2 separate regions of the Homo sapiens genome follow, and region 1 is linked to region 2. Evidence: fine-mapped expression QTL. A gene starts in region 2. The other region holds a variant in brackets. All regions are shown on one strand. Distances are from middle to middle.

What was found. PIP is the estimated chance that this variant, and not a neighbour inherited with it, causes the effect.
Region 1: its variant is the best candidate, but not a certain one, in a credible set for the expression of YJEFN3 in tibial artery (GTEx, PIP 0.67).

What each region holds. Positions count from the first base shown.
Region 1 is chr19:19,237,778-19,240,672 of GRCh38, forward strand. It overlaps NCAN (neurocan), which reads left to right. Exons shown (of 15, transcript NM_004386.3): 11 at 476-634; 12 at 2,826-2,895. Among named protein-coding and RNA genes, the nearest start is that of HAPLN4, 24 kb to the right of the region's middle. The variant G/A (reference allele first, on the strand shown) is at 1,517.
Region 2 is chr19:19,527,093-19,529,984 of GRCh38, forward strand. YJEFN3 (YjeF N-terminal domain containing 3) reads left to right here and starts at 1,819. Exons shown (of 7, transcript NM_198537.4): 1 at 1,819-1,899; 2 at 2,272-2,421. The coding sequence starts at 1,841. NDUFA13 (NADH:ubiquinone oxidoreductase subunit A13) reads left to right here. Exons shown (of 5, transcript NM_015965.7): 3 at 189-260; 4 at 609-678; 5 at 915-1,106. The coding sequence ends at 1,034. RefSeq lists enhancers at 1,078-1,578, 2,554-2,892.

The sequences.
Region 1 (2,895 bases), 290 kb before region 2:
TCACGTCTGTAATTCCAGCATTTTGGGAGGCTGAGGTGGGCAGATCACTTGAGGCCAGGAGTTTGAGACCAACCTGACCAACATGGTGAAACCCTATCTCTACTAAAAATACAAAATTAGGTGGGCGTGGTGGCGCACGCCTGTAATCCCAGCTACTCAGGAGGCTGAGGTGGGAGGATTGCTTGAGTATGGGAGGCGGAGGTAGCAGTGAGCCGAGATTGTGCCATTGCACGCCAGCCTGGGCGACGGAGTGAGACCCTGTCCAAAAAAAAAAGAAAAAAAAGAAGTCAATATGGGAGGTGAAAGGGTTGGGAGAGCAGAGCCTCAGGAGGAGGGGCCAGGCATGGGGAGAGGGGTGATTTCGCCCCGCAGTGACCTTGGATTGGGCCCTCTCTCTGGTGGGCTGGCTGTGCTCATGGCTGGTAGGCCTTGGGCCAAGGCCAGCCCCCCCTCACGCTCCTATCCCATCTCCCAGACACCGAGGGCTGTGACCGCGGCTGGCATAAGTTCCAGGGCCACTGTTACCGCTATTTTGCCCACCGGAGGGCATGGGAAGATGCCGAGAAGGACTGCCGCCGCCGCTCCGGCCACCTGACCAGCGTCCACTCACCGGAGGAACACAGCTTCATTAATAGTAGGGGCTCTGGGGAGGGGGCCACCTGCCTGGAGGGTGGGCAGGGGTGGCACTTGTAGCCCTTTTGCCAGGGCATCGCATCCCTCCCCTGGTTTTCAAGACGTCATCTTTCCAAAGCTGTGTTCATTAACGCAAGCCCTGACTGCTTCTTAATGCATGAAATCTGTCAATTCACTTGTTAATTCATACATTCACTTCATTCATTCATTCACCAAATATTTACTGAGCACCTGCTATATGCCAGGCACCATTCCAGGAATATTGACACAGCACAGCAGCAATCAAGGCTGACTTTGCTTTGTCCCCAGGGAGTGACCATTTCTTGGGGAGGATATAGACAAACAAGTAAATATCTAAGTAAATAAGTCTATACTGTAATTCAACAGATCCTATGTGTGCTGATAACAAAACAGGGCCAGGAGATGGAGGGTGATGGGAGAAGCACCTGTAATGTGTTCAAAGACCTAGGAGAGAGACAAGTGTTCCATTCATGTAATCCGGGACTTATTGATTTATTCATTATCCCTCTGCCTTCTGCTCATCCATCCATTTATTCTGTTTATTCCGTTTGCCACCATCCCATCCCTCGTGACTCCTTCCTTTCTTCCTTCCCTGATTTGTTTCTTTTTCCTTGATGTATCCCACTGGGCCTCTCCCTCCTGAGCGACTGGCTCGCGCCTTCTCACCTATCTGCCCGTCCAGCGCCCACTGGCGTCTCCTGTCCCCTACTTCTCATTTCTGCAAAGATGCAACAGTGCCCGGGTTTACTCCTGCTTCTCCTGGCCACAAACCCTGGGATAGCCTGGGCCTACTTCCGGTTCTTCCCATGCCTCACCCCCCTAAAAGAGGGTAGCCAGAGTCCCCACTTGTGGAGGGTGGGGT[G/A]AGGATGCACCTCCAGCCTACACTGAGGCTGGGAGAGGGGTTCATGCCTGCCCCCTACCCTCCTCCTCCTTCCTTTCCCTCCTACCTCCCCATCTTCCCTCCCACTCCTCCCCCTCCTCCTTCTATACCTCTTCCTCCCTCTTCCCCATCCTCCCTCCCCCTCCTCTCCCTCCTCCTTCCATTCTTTCTCCTCCTCCCTCCTACTCCTCCCCTTCTCCCTCCTCTCCTCCCCTTCCTCCTTCCACTCATCTTCCACCTCCTTTCTCCTCTCCATCCTCCCTCCCCTCCTCCCTCTCCTCCTCCCATTCCTCCTCTTCCTCTCTCCTCTCCTCCCCCTTCCCTCCCCCTCCTCCTTCCACTCATCTTCTTCCTCCTTTCTGCTCCTCATCCTGCCTCTCCCTCCTCCCATTCATCCCCTCCTCCCTCCTGCTCCTCCCCAGGCCTCCTCCCTTCTACTCCTCCTCCTTCTCCTTCCTCTTCCCCTTGCTCTTCCTCCTCCCTTCCACTCCTCCTCTTTTCTCCTCCCCATTCATCTCCCACTCTTCCCCCTCCTCCCTCCAACTCCTCCCCTCCTCCTTCCATTCATCTTTCTCCTCCTTTCTCCTTCCCTTCCTCCTCCCTCTTCTCTCCTTCCTCCCTCCCATTCCTCTGCCTCCTCCTTCCACTCATCTTCCTCCTCCTTTCTCTTCCCCATCCTCCCTCCCACTCCTCCCCCTCCTTCTTCCACTGATCTTTCTCCTCCTTTCTCCTCCCCCTCCTCCTCCCATTCCCCCCTCCTCCCTCCTGCTCCTCATCCTCCCTTCCATTCCTCCTCCCTCCTCCCCATCCTTCTTCCCACTCCTGCCCCTCCTCCCTTTCACTCCTCCTCCTTTTTCCTCCCCCTCATCTCTCTCCTTCTCCCTTCCTTCCCCCTTCCCTTCTCCAGCTCTTACAGAGGTTAGGGAGGGCATCTGTGTACTCCCTCACCTCTGTAAACTTCACTTCTATCTCCTTCCCTCTCCACCTCAACCTCCAGCCCACCTCCAGGCTGGGGAAGGGGCTGAGTCTTCCCCTCCCATACATACCTCACCCGGCCCCCAGCCCACAGAGAGGCTGAGGGAGGGGCTCTGGGTCCTCCTCCATCCCTGTACCTGCTTCTTCCCTCTTCATTTCCACCTTCTAGATCTTTCCCCCCACCCAGCCCACCTCCAGGCTGGGGAAGGTGAGGAATTCTTTCCTCCCACACCCTACCCCACCTCACCTGCAGCCTGTGCCCTGGGCCAGGAGAGGCATGGGTGAACACCCAGACCCACAACCCCCGACCCTGCAGGCTTTGGGCATGAAAACACGTGGATCGGCCTGAACGACAGGATCGTGGAGAGAGATTTCCAGTGGACGGA
Region 2 (2,892 bases):
TCTCAGGCTCCTGGTGGGCTCTGCCCACAGCCCTTGCCCTTCCCGCGACCCTCGCCCTGCCCCCTGCCTGCCTCCCCGCCCCCCTCCGCCTCTTCCCCCAGCAGCACCCTGGCCCCTGAGGTCTGTGCTGCCTGTGCTCCCCCGACCTAGCCTGGTCTGACCTGAGTGTGGGTTTCGGGCTTTCACAGGCGCCTACAAATCGAGGACTTCGAGGCTCGCATCGCGCTGTTGCCACTGTTACAGGCAGAAACCGACCGGAGGTAGCACCGCAGGGGCCAAGGTTGGGAGGTCACTGGCCGGAAGGCCCCAGGCTGCAGGGCCTGACCTGCATCCCCGAAGGTGGCCAGAATGCACGTGGGGGCCATCGCCCTGTGCCGTCAGCTGCATCCTCAGGCGTGGAGACTTAGTGGAGACCCAAGGGGGCGAACCGGAAGGCTTCCTGGAGGAGGAGGCAGCACTGGGGTTGGGGCAAGAGAAAAGCTAGGAGTTGGCTGGGGGAAAAGGAGACAGGGTCGGAGGGAGGCTTGAAGGGGTGCTACTAGGGGCCCTAGGCAGGGGCCCCTCAGGGCACTGAGGCCCCACCCCCACCATCGGCCCCATCCCCACAGGACCTTGCAGATGCTTCGGGAGAACCTGGAGGAGGAGGCCATCATCATGAAGGACGTGCCCGACTGGAAGGTGGGTCCCGGCTGGGAGGGCAGAGGTGCCAGCCACGGCAGAGACAGGGCCTGGGGTTGGGGAGCTCCCACAGCTTTCTATAGAAACCCCAGGACCAAGGGGGTGGTGGGTGCCAGGTCCCACAAGGGAAGGCTGTAGCGCCTGCCACGCACAGGGGCCACTGATCCTGGGGGATGGGTCCTAGCAGGCTGTATATGGGTGGCTGTGCCTCTACCCATACCCCACTGTCCCCACAGGTGGGGGAGTCTGTGTTCCACACAACCCGCTGGGTGCCCCCCTTGATCGGGGAGCTGTACGGGCTGCGCACCACAGAGGAGGCTCTCCATGCCAGCCACGGCTTCATGTGGTACACGTAGGCCCTGTGCCCTCCGGCCACCTGGATCCCTGCCCCTCCCCACTGGGACGGAATAAATGCTCTGCAGACCTGGCCTGCCTGTTTTCCTGGGGACTGGGGGAAAGAAGGGGGAGAGGGCCCAGCTAGGCACCACCGGATCACATGTAGCATGGGGACGCAGCAGATATGCACAGGGTGACCTCAAAACACACCTAGGGGCTGCCCCTGGATCCACTGGCGGCCTCCTCTCTGCCTCCGATATACCTGGACTCTCCTGCCTCCCTTTTGAAACCATGCCTGTCAGCAGCCCACTTACCTCTCCAGGCTGGGGGCCCCTGGGTCAGCTTTGGGTCAGACCTTCTCCACGGAGGTCTGGAGAGTGGGGGGAGCCTTGACCTCCCGGATACAAGTGATCCTCCCGCCTCAGCCTCCCGTGTCACTGCGATTACAGGATTACAGGCGTGAGCCACCATACCTTGTGCAGCCCTGCCAATTGTAGGCATGGCGAGGGTATTTGTCTGCGGAGGGGCTCCTCGCTCCCTGAGAGGGAAGCTCAGAGACACGGGGATATCTGCAGGGAAAGTAAGTCGGGGGAAGCAACCAAGATTGGCCAGGTGCCTCTGCTGTGGGCTCCTGGCACGAAAGGGTGAAGTCCGTCTGAGTCCACCGACCAATGGTGACGCGCAGCGCCTTCGCGGCGCTTCCTGATTGGCGGGCATGCAGGGTGGGCGGGAGGGAGGAGAAGAGGGGGCGTCCCCTCCCTCCACGGATGCGCTTAAAAGGCGGTGGCGGTGGCGGCAGCGCCCGGCGCCCGGGCTCACCTCGGCCATGAGCAGCGCAGCCGGCCCAGACCCGTCGGAGGCGCCCGAAGAGCGGCATTTCCTCAGGTCAGCTGGGGAGAGGGAAGCTGGAGACGGGCATGGTTCCCATGGGGCCAGGAGCAGCCCGTAGGACCGGAGGCAGGGTCATAGCTGGGACAGAATGGGGTCCGGGGACTGGAGACGGGCACAGCCGGGATGGAGGTTCAACGGCAGAGGCATGACCACGGTGGGGAACCGGAGGCAGGGATATGGCCAAGACGGGCCTGGGAATCCCGGGAATCCGAGACCCTCCTGGCATCTTGCTGGAGACACTAAGCTGCGTTGCTGGGGAAACTGCCTCCGGGGCAGCCCGCCCCTCATGAATGATTCATCAGCAGCGCTGGTCGCTCCCCCACCGAACCCCAACCGTGGCCCACCCCCACTCTCCATCTCTCCCAGGGCCTTGGAGCTGCAGCCCCCACTTGCCGACATGGGAAGAGCGGAGCTTAGCTCAAATGCTACCACCTCCCTTGTCCAGAGGAGGAAACAGGCCTGGGGAAGGCAGTCATGGCTAGAGCAGATTTGGAACGCAGGGCCTGTTTGCCAGAGGTTGGTGAGTTTGGGATCTAGAACTGGCGCCGTGGCTGTGACTCTCACCTCATCCTCCTCAGCCTTTGTGACATGGGACCCCAGGCAAGGCTGTTGACCTCACTGTGAACCAGATGCGTCCAACAGCTCCTGCCCACTGCCCACCTAGCAGGGCACGTGTCCCCTCAGCCGATGTCCAGACTCAGTCTAGGGAAGAGTGTTTTAGGAGCTGTGACTTCACCTTGGGGTGAAGGGGTGAGGTGAGGGGGGCCTCAAATGCTAAGTGAGGGGAGTGAGGGGGCTCTCAGGGGTGGGTAGGAGCTAGAACGTAGTGGGGAACTGGCTGACGAGGCTGGAGACACAGAAGGGCCTCTTAGGCATGGTGAGGAGTTTGGAGTTTGAATGTTCCCAGAGCCCTCGGGAGCCATCAGCAGGTTTGGGACCCGGTGATGCAATCTGGTGTTCGAGTTTTCAAAGCCCCCCCAGGCTCAT